Linked DNA regions of Homo sapiens: region 1 is linked to region 2. Evidence: fine-mapped expression QTL. A gene starts in region 2. The other region holds a variant in brackets. All regions are shown on one strand. Distances are from middle to middle. Region 1 holds the start of KRT27 (keratin 27). Region 2 holds the start of KRT10-AS1 (KRT10 antisense RNA 1).

Region 1 (5,383 bases), 36 kb before region 2:
AATGAATAGAAGCGTCTCAAACAATCTAAGCCTTATGGAGAAACTGACAGGTTCCTTCTTGAATGTTAATTTAAGACATTATATTTATCATCTGAAATTAGTTTTAAAATTTGGTAGGGAGGCGATTGTGAGAGCCAGCCGGGTGGAGCTTCTACCTCCTCATGATTCTTCTTGAGGTAAGCGAGCTCCTCACTGAGAGTTTCCAGCTGGATCTCCAGGTCCGTTCTGCACAAGGTCAGCTCATCCAGGACTCTTCGCAAACCATTGATGTCCGCCTCCACGCTCTGGTGAAGCGCTAGCTCGTTTTCAAACCTTAGAAAAGTATTTGGAAGTTTCATCATTAGTCATTAGACATGGCACATCACTTTTTAGATCATCATACAACTCAGACTAAGCTTTGAGGTAAAACTACTAAGATAATACTTAAAACTTCAGGCCGGGCGCGGTGGCTCACGCCTGTAATCCCAGCACTTTGGGAGGCAGAGGCGGGCGGATCACGAGGTCAGGAGATCGAGATCACGGTGAAACCCCGTCTCTATTAAAAAATACAAAAAATTAGCCGGGCGCAGTGGTGGGCGCCTGTAGTCCCAGCTACTCGGGAGGCTGAGGCGGGAGAATGGCGTGAACCTAGGAGGCGGAGCTTGCAGTGAGCCGAGATTGCGCCACTGCACTCCAGCCTGGGCGACAGAGCGAGACTCCGTCTCCAAAAAATAAATAAATAAATAAATAAATTAATTAATTAAAAAAACACATTTCAGTTAGGTCATCTATCATGCAATAAATACATTTCATTGAAGCAAGAGAATGGGAATAGCCAAAATTCTTTCTCATATGACTTTGACACTCGTTTTTGTTAGTCCCGAAATTTCCCAAGTAAAATTTGTTGCTCAGCTAGTTACTCATTCTAACAGGCATTTTGTTTAAAACAAATACATGAATAAACAAGAACAAAGGCTTGAGACAACGTCAAATAACTTAGAAGAATAAAGGAGAAAAAATGCTTAGACAACTTTTTTTTCCCATTTATCTTCAGCTCTACTTACTTTAGTCTGAAGTCATCAGCTGTTAGTCTTGCATTATCATTTTGCAGGACAACATGGGCATTACTGGTAGTTGCAGAAATTATCTGACAAATGAAAAGTTAGTTAAGATTGAGGAAATATTTAAGATGCATTTCAAAGTTCCTTGAAATAAAATTACCCATGAAATTATAGTAATATTTCTGGCATCTGTCTCTAATAATCAGACCATTCTTTTGAAGATGGGTAATTTAAGTATGGTCTCTCTCTCTGTCTTTTATTTTGAGACCGAGTCTCGCTCTGTTGCCCAGGCTGGAGTGCAGTGGCACGATCTTGGCTCACTGCAACCTCCACCTCCCAGATTCAAGTGATTCTCCTGCCTCAGCCTCCCAAGTAGCTGGGATTACAGGCATGTGCCACCACGCTCGGCTAACTTTTGTAGTTTTAGTAGAAACAGGGTTTCACCATGTTGGCCAGGCTGGTCTTGAACCCCTAATCTCAAGTGATCCACCTGCCTTGGCCTCCCAAAGTGCTGGGATTACAGGCTGAACCACTGTGCCTGGCTGGGTATGGTCTCTTGTATTTCCCACCCCAAGCATTAAAAAAAGCTCTTTCTATGGGAAAGCCTATAAATATATAACTGGAGACACTGGACAGCTTTTGATATTTTAATATTACCAAAAGCATATACCTAATACTACATGATGGACGTGCCATGTTCAAATATTAGAATTTATTAGAAATTATTTTTAATATTGAAAATGAACTCCTAAAATTTAGAAGCTGAGGGCAAAGCCCTGTTATTGTGATAGCTTATACATTTGTGCATCTGTGAGTGGCTAAACACTCTCAGGAGTGCTAACACTCACGCCATGGCGTTTCTTACCTGGTTCTTAAGTTCGTCAATAATTGGGAAATATCTGCTGTAATCATGATCAAGGCCACGGCAAGAACCAGGTCCAAATTTCTCATACCACCCCTTGATCTTCTGCTCCAAGTCAGCGTTGGCCTCCTCTAGGGCTCGAACATTCTCCAGGTAGGAGGCCAAGCGGTCGTTGAGGTTCTGCATGGTCACCTTCTCATTGCCAGAGAGGAGGCCGTGCTCATTCCCTGTGAAGGCAGCACAGGAAGCACTTCCCCCGCCCAGACCTCCGCCATAGCCTCCTGCAGATGAGCTGCCCCCAAAAGCACAAGAGAAGCCACTTCCAATGCCTGGCACACCGCATGTGTTTCCAGCCCCAAAGCCTGCTCCCCCACTAGAGAGCCTCACAGAGCCAGTGCCCCCGCAAGAGCCAAGTCTCCTGGAGGTAGAAGAAAAGCGCACAGACATGGTGTCCGGAGGCTGGAGCCTTTGTTTCTGCGGTGATGCTCTGATGGTGAACGGCCTACTCAAACAGCTTGGTTTGCCTTTATATACACATTATTAGGGTGTTTCTTGATGAGCTTTGCTCATAGCCAAATGATGTTTGCCAGCTCATTGTGAATTATCCATAATGGGGTGATTTTTTTTTTTTTTTAATGAATGGCTTTACCATACTGTGTCCATTTCTGTAGGTGGATAGTTATTGTGGGGTTATTTGTTATCTCTGGAGTTGGACAGGGTGGAGTATTATCAGGATTATTATAGTGATGCATTTCAAATTTAGTATGAGTAACTCTTCCTGTCTTCCAGGCTTCAGGAATGCATAATACCTATAAGAATAAAAAAGTATGATAGACAGATTTCTCTTTCCCTTGCTCAAATCAGCATTGCATTTTCTTCAGCAATGAAGTATCATAGTATCAGAAGAAGGAGGGGAGGTCCTAAAGGAAAACTGAGGCATTAAAGGGAATCTTCTTTGGAGACAGAAAGTGTTCCTTTGATCCTTATCCTTCCTGAATTACCATTTCATCTGTACTGGTTTTCTGTCTAAGTTCCATTGCTAACCAGGTTAAGTAAAGGAATTGGTCACCTCCTCGGGCCTCAGTTTCCACATCTGTAAAGTGAAGGGTCTAGACTGTGGTCTCTATATTCACTTTCTGTCTGTAGATTGCTCATATTTCTGCATTCCTTCTATTGGCTGTCCATTTCCATAGCACTTTTCTGCATTGCTTCTTGTACTTTTCACCTCTTATTTCTGAAT[T/C]GTGGTCCCACTATTTTACTGAAATTAACCTCTCAGACATCACTGCACATCTCTAATCATCATTTCTTTTATTTTTTCCCCTATACCCTCTTGGTTACATTCAATACTGACAACCTCAGTCTGATGAGTCTGATCGAGTTTCAGACAGTTGCTTTCTAAGAAATTTTCTACATCTCATGTTGCTCCCCTTTTCTCTTCCACTTATAGCTCCTGTGCCCTACCTTTGTCATTTCTTATAGTTTTGTGCTTGGTATTTACGACTCTCTCTCTTTTTTTTTTTTTTTTGACAGGGTCTCGTTTTGTCACCCAGGCCAGAGTGCAGTGACATGATCACAGCTCACTGCAGCCTCAACCTCCCAGGCTCAAGTGATCCTCCCACCTCAGCCTACCAAATATCTGGGACTACAGGCACACGCCACTATGCCTGGCTAATCTGTGTATTTTTTTGTAGAGTTGGGGTTTGCCATGTTGTCCAGGCTGGTCTTGAATGCCTGGGCTCGACAGATCCTCCCACCTTGGCCTCCCAAAGTGCTGGGATTATAGGCAGGAGCCACCTCACTGTCTTAATGTAAATTTTCCCGCACTGACTTGTCCGTTCTGTTTTACTACTTCCCTCTTTCCCATCTCTTTGCCTTTGTTCATGTTATTCTTTCCACCTGGTTTTCTTCTTCAGACTAAAAATTATAACAAATCATTTGAGATCTTGCATTTGCCAAGAATGATTGACATCACTTTCAATTACCTAGATTGAAAATGAAGTTGGCAAAAATATAAATTTTCATGACTTAATAAATGAGCTTGCGGAAAAAAAGCCAGAAAGATTTGTCAATCAATTTAATACATTATTAAAGTATTATGGTTTATTGTTTTACATAAAATTAGGACACCAAAACATTATTTCTTTGCTGTTTGTAGTTTATGCTGTTATATATGTGTACCCGTTACCTCATTACATGTTATAAATAATAAGACTTTTTAGAAGAAAAAGATTTATATTTTACTATTTCTTTTTTTTTTTTTTTGAGATGGAGTCTCGCTCTGTCGCCCAGGCTGGAGTGCAGTGGTGCCATCTCGGCTCACTGCAACCTCTGCCTCCCGAGTTCAAGTGATTCTCCTGCCTCAGCCTCCCAAGTAGGTGGGATTACAGGTGCCTGCCACCATGCCCGGCTAATTTTTGTATTTTTAGTAAAGACGGGGTTTCACCATGTTGGCCAGGCTGGTCTCAAACTCCTGACCTCAGACCACCCACCTTGGTCTCCCAAAGTGTTGGGATTATAGACTTGAGCCACCGCGCTGGACCTATTTTAATATTTCTAACTGAACTTTTTTTCTGACTTTTCAACAGGAGACCTCACATTTTCATTTTGCACTGGGCCTTGTAAATTATGTAGCCAGCCCGAATTGTTGGGTCTCTCTGAGGAAGCTGAAGAATCTCAGAGAAAATACCTCCAGATAGAATTGTTTGAGTGTTCTCCACAAAAAGGGAGCTCACTGTACAACCACTCTGGAAGGAAACACAGACACTTCACACAAAGCTTTCAAATGTTTAAGGTCTTACTCAAAACGAACATAATTTAAAATATCACGATACATTGAAAAACACTCCAACAAGAAAGACAGAGACTCAAACAAACAAAAAATAGCACTCAGGGGAAACAGAGATAATGAAGAACGTTGAAGAAAACTTTAAAAAAGAAACTACCTATAATTATTACTTTCAGAAGTAACAAAAATACTGTATATTTAAAACATGGATAGAACATCATTAAAATTGAACAGGAAGCACATAAAAGACCTCTTAGAATTAAAAACTAAGTCCCAAAAGAAAACTTCAATAGATGAATTGGAAAATAAATTTAAAAAAAAACTCCCCAAAATTAGAACAAAAAGATGAAAAGATAAATATGTGAGCCTTGAAAGAGCCAGTCTCTCTCTCTCTCTGTTTTTTTTTTTGAGACTGAGTCTTGCTCTGTCACCCAGGCTCGAGTGCACTGGCGCGATCTTGGCTCACTGCAACCTCCACCTCCCAGGTTCAGGTAATTCTCCTGCCTCAGCCTCCCAAGTAGCTGGGATTACAAGCACATGCCACCATGCCTGGCTAATTTTTGTATTTTTAGCAGAGATGGGGTTTCACCATGTTGGCCAGATTGGTCTCGAATGCCTGACCTCAAGAGATCCGCCAGCCTCGGCCTCCCAAAGTGCTGGGATTACAGGTGTGAGCCACCGTGCCTGGCGTAAAGA
Region 2 (5,383 bases):
TTGCATGCTCATAAACCATGAATAAGCTCTTTCCCTAATTCCCATTCTCAAAATGCAATATAGATGAGAAATATTAGATGCATCCTATTTAACCTTAATCGAGTTACTTCCCTGATAAAGATGACCCTAACAAAGCTATTTCTTCACTCCCAAGCAAAATATCAAGCCATCATGGGCACCAAGATTAGGGTGCAAAGCTTTTAGGCCTTTAGCATCATAAGAGAACATCTTTGGGGAAACAGGATTTTATCGTGTAATATTTTTTGACATGGGTGCCGAATTGGCTCTGCCAATCTAATTAGGCACTACCCTGCTTAAATAGCAGGATTCTGTAATGACTTTAGAATCTGTAAGAATGCATACAGAATTTTTTGATTAATAGGTACATGCAAATTTATTTGGTAAAAATAGTGCCCTGTGCTATTTAATAATTTTTAAAAATAATTCTGTAATTTTTTTTACTATAAATACCAATGTCCTTATTAAAGACAAGTGGCTTATTTAGACAGATTATCTTTATTAAACCATAGTGTTGGGCACTGCGGCATGTGCCTATAATCCCAGCTACTCAGAGACTGAGGTGGGAGGATTGCTTGAGCCCAGTTCAAGACTAGCATGGGCAACACAGTGAGACTTTGTCTCATTAAAAAAAAAAAAAAAAAAGCAAAAACAAACCATAGTTATCCAAGTCCAATCAAGAAAGCAGCTGTTTATCTGAGATAAAGTATTTACTTTATCAGAGAGAATATAAATAATTGTTTAAGGAGGTATTGCAAGATTGAAATGGTAAGAAGACAGGACCACGATGTATGCAGACTTTTCAGGAATGAAAGTTTGGGTCACCATCCAACCACATAGAGGACTCTGACTGCTAAGATTGTGGCCTGGGGGAGGAGGGCAGAATGGGTAGAAGAGACAAACTTAACAGCAAGCACTGCTATCTCATAGTAACATATGTGTACTTGCCTCGTATCAGTGGTATTGAATATAAAAAATCTATTTCTTCAGAATAAGGTGAATGGTAACCTCAGATTATAAGTACAATAGGTCCCGGGGATTTGGTTAACCTTATAATACATATTTTAAAAGATGGTGTTTCTGAACAGCAGGCAGTATAGCACTATTTACACAGTAGGAGTTCAGAGTCCTTATACAGCGACGTAAGGACTTCACAGTGTTTCAGGGCTCTACGCAGTGAGGCGTGTTGGGACTTCAATAGTGGATCTGAGAAGACTGGCTCCCAAGGTTAGCTGGTACAAATATCCAGAGGCATGTGAGCATTTAGACATTTAGGCATTTAGAGGCACAGGAACGAAAATGGAGAGCCTCTGGGCTGTGCTAATATTTGGTGCTAAGCAGGTTATGAAGCCTTGACTATAGGGAAATCCATCCCATTGAAACAAGGCTCCTGTCATCAATTTGGGGTACAGAGGGTAGTGTCTACAGAGTGGAGTGCCAACAAATGGCATGGGGATCAGGGCTCAGATCTGGAGCTCAAATCAAGGATACTGAGGAAAGCTGCTACTTGGTGGACATGAGTAATCCAAGAACTCATCAGAGGACACAAGGTAGTCTAAGGGACACGCCAGCTTATTCCCTTCATAGGATCCCCAGTAGAGTACTAAGTAATGTTGGTTGGGTTCTTATTGGCTGAGGGATGTGACTGGGCTATGAAAGTACAAGGTCTTTAGTCCTGATCACTGGGCACAGTTGGGGAAGGCAGAGACCTAGTGGTGTCCTTTTGGTTACACTGGCATCACTACTTCCTGACAGCGTTTCTCACGTTCATCTGATGGACATCAAATAATTTTGTTGGGGGTGATATGATTTTACTTGGGTGGTGTCAGAAGATATGTCAAGCTATATAACAATTGGGAAGAAGTAATATAGTAACTGGAAGAAAGTAAGAAAAGGCAAAGGTGAGAAGTCAGGTAATTAGAAAATATAAAATTTCCAATTATTATTATTTTGGGGGTTTTATTTGAGATATTCCAGAATTTCCAGGATTGAAATAATTTAAAGCCAGAGAGCTGGGAGCCTTCCACATATTGTGTATCTTAAAGAGTAATATTGGGGATTTACAGACTTTACTCAGTGAATTTACTGACGGTGGTCTGAACATACATGATTAAAAAACTTAGAAAAGGCATGACAATAGTTCTGTCTTCCGAATTTCTGGATACATCAACCTTCAACTGCTATGGGTTACTAATCTTTAATTTTAAAGAGTATTATGTACTTAAGTAAAGATAAATTCTGACAAATTGGGATAGTTTGCATCAGTAAGAAAGTTTATTGAAATTCATTAGTAAATGAGAACAGAAAGTTGTTTTTCTTTCCATTAAAGAACACTTTCTGGTAAAGTGAAAAGAAGAAATACAGAAACCACAAAACACCTTGTAGACACCTTATTTTCAAGGTCTATTTCCATAGACCATCAAGACAGAAGTGTTTTCTTGGAGACTTTGTTTTCCATGCATCTGTAAATAATGGTCTGTGTGAAGGGAGACTCTTTCCTCTTGATGCAGTTTAATAGTAGTGTTTCTTGGTTTCTGATTCAACCATAGATGAAAGAACTCTACCGTCGGGCGCCACCTCTTCAATAATTGTCTTGATTACTCTGGTTTTGTTAGTATCTGTGTGAATGATGGAAAAAAAATTTTAAACAGTCTGTAGGGATCCTTAGTAATTAACAAGCAAATATTGTAAAAAGAAGGAAATTTCAACTTTACATTGTTAAGCCCAAAAAAATGCTTAAGGTATGACATTTTGATCATGCCATTTTTCACGGCTGGTGTTAAGAGTAGTTTGTGAACAAATGCAAACGGAACCGTCTCTAAGATTTTTAATTTTTTAAAACAACTCTAGAGCTTAAAGCGCAAAAAAACCATCACAGGAAGTTAAAACTAATTCTGATTACCCCAGCTAGTTTCTGCTGACCTTGGTCCCTTAGATGAAGACTCGCCCACGGACCCGGAAGAGGAGGACTTGTGGCCTCCGCTGGAGCTGCCGCCGCCGTATCCGCCGCCGGAGCTGCTGCCGCCGCCGGAGCTGCCGCCCCCGTAGCCGCCGCCGCCGCCGCCGGAACTGCCACCACCGTAGCCGCCGCTGGAACTGCCGCCGTGGCCGCCGCTGGAGCTTCCGCCCCCGTAGCCGCCGCCGGAGCTTCCGCCGCCGGAGCTTCCGCCTCCGTAGCCGCCGCCGGAACTGCCGCCGTGGCCGCCGCCGTGGCCGCCGCCGGAGCTTCCGCCGCCGGAGCTTCCGCCGCCGTAGCCGCCGCCGAAACTTCCGCCGCCGCGTCCGCCGCCTCCGGAACTAAACGGGGTGAGGTCACATTCGGTTATCTCTAACGTTGGAAAACGGTGGGTAGCTTTCCAGTTGCCGTTAATTTAGAAAATAAGCAAAACGTGTTGAAAAAATAAAACCCTGCCAGGTATATATTTTAAAACCCATCCTTTGAAAACAATGTTAAGTTCACAGAACTCTTAAGAATCATTTTGGGCCAAATTCATGAGAAAGTGAGATTGCGGTTGCGTACTCCTTTTTCTGTACTCTACCCTCTCTCCTCCCTTCCTCTCATTCTCTGGCATCTTCTTGGGGTTTAGATAAGCCTTGCTATCTGGAATATTGAATAAAAGAAACTGGGATAACTTTTCATTTTAAAATTTACCTTCCCTCTCCTTCTAGCAGGCTGCGGTAGGTTTGAATTTCATTCTCCAGTCGGATCTTAATATCCAGGAGTTGTTGGTATTCAGTATTCTGGCACTCGGTTTCAGCTCGAATCTGTTGCAACTGTTCTTCCAGAGCGGATATCTGGGCCTGAATCTGTGAGAGCTGCACACAGTAGCGACCTTCTGTTTCTGCCAAGGAGGCTTCCAGGGATTGTTTCTGAAACGGATTTTTTTGTGGCTTAGTGACTTCCTTGTTCAGTTGAGTATGGTGACGCTTATTTGATTATTTAGTAAGGCATTATATAGAAGAATAAGAAAATGAACAGAATTTGTTGTATGTTTAATGGCACCATTTCAGTTTCAGCACTTTTAGATCAACACTAGTAGTACTTTTCCTCCATTAACATGAGCTTCACTTTGTTTTCTCTTTCTTACCTCCAACTCTGCATTTTTTTGTTGCATTGCATATTCTTAGGTGAGCATGAAACTTTGTATGATAAAGTTGAAGTCATTTCATGAGAGTTAACATACCAAGGCCAGTTGGGACTGTAGTTCTATCTCCAGAGCTTGTACATTACGTCTCAATTCAGTAATCTCAGATTTATAGCTGGATATCTGTTCAATGTTATTATCAATTTCTGTAGTCAGTTCCTTGCTCTAGAGTATTAAAAACAAGGAAAAGGGTGAGGAAATTCTGAAATGATAAAACCTCCATGAGTTTCACTATAAGGAAGATTACTTTACCTTTTCATTGAACCAGGCTTCAGCATCTTTGCGGTTTTGTTCAGCAAGTTGTTCATATTGGCTTCTCATGTTATTCAGAAGTTGAGTCAGATCAACACCCGGGGCAGCATTCATTTCCACATTCACATCACCAGTGGACACATTTCGAAGGTCTTTCATTTCCTGTTTGAGGAACAGAAAGATTTATTGGCTACACGAGGACCATAATGAACTCTCTTTTGGCTGGGAAAAGTATAACTTTTGTGTCACCTCCTCGTGGTTCTTCTTCAGATAGGCCAGCTCTTCAGTCAGGCTCTCAATTTGCATCTCCAGGTCAGCCTTGGTCAGGGTCAGCTCATCCAGCACCCTACGCAGGCCGTTGATGTCAGCCTCCACGCTCTGGCGCAGAGCTACCTCATTCTCATACCTGAAACAAGCATGATATCAATACTGGTTATAACTTATATAGGGGAGATGTATCTGGGCAGAGACTATTTAAAAAGCAGCTACATAGTTGATCTCATGTAATGGCAATATTTGTCATGTACAGTTCTCTTAGAAGTAATAGTGGTTTAATGGAAAAAACCTTAGCAGTTACTTTAAAATGCATTTTCTTCCTTTAATATTGCCAAAAAGGTAACACTGACATGGAAAATTTCTCAGATAACTCCAATACTATTTAACTTTGGGTGAATTCAGAAAAATGTAAATGTTATTGAGGGCATCCCAAGTCATTGTTAAAAACCACTGATGTATTCGTTGTGATAGTATTATACAACGATCACTTAACTTACTTCAGCCTGAAGTCATCAGCTGCCAGCCTGGCATTGTCGATCTGAAGCAGGATGTTGGCATTATCAGTTGTTAGGTTGAGAATCTGGAGGGAGAGGCACAGTTATTTGAGAAGAGGTCAGATGCAGATATGGCTTTTGTAGTGACATAGATGCACTCTGCACTTTTATGTTGTTCTCTTACAAAATCTTGGGAAA

Evidence for each region.
Region 1: its variant is fine-mapped to the expression of KRT10-AS1 in esophagus muscle (GTEx, PIP 0.95).

What each region holds. Positions count from the first base shown.
Region 1 is chr17:40,780,145-40,785,527 of GRCh38, forward strand. KRT27 (keratin 27) reads right to left here and starts at 2,406. Exons shown (of 8, transcript NM_181537.4): 1 at 1,906-2,406; 2 at 1,044-1,126; 3 at 156-312. The coding sequence starts at 2,349. The variant T/C (reference allele first, on the strand shown) is at 3,143.
Region 2 is chr17:40,815,847-40,821,229 of GRCh38, forward strand. It overlaps KRT10-AS1 (KRT10 antisense RNA 1), which reads left to right and starts at 3,299. Exons shown (of 3, transcript NR_160888.1): 1 at 3,299-3,362. KRT10 (keratin 10) reads right to left here. Exons shown (of 8, transcript NM_000421.5): 2 at 5,189-5,271; 3 at 4,665-4,821; 4 at 4,416-4,577; 5 at 4,203-4,328; 6 at 3,671-3,888; 7 at 2,941-3,315; 8 at 2,271-2,636. The coding sequence ends at 2,630. RefSeq lists an enhancer at 3,809-5,008.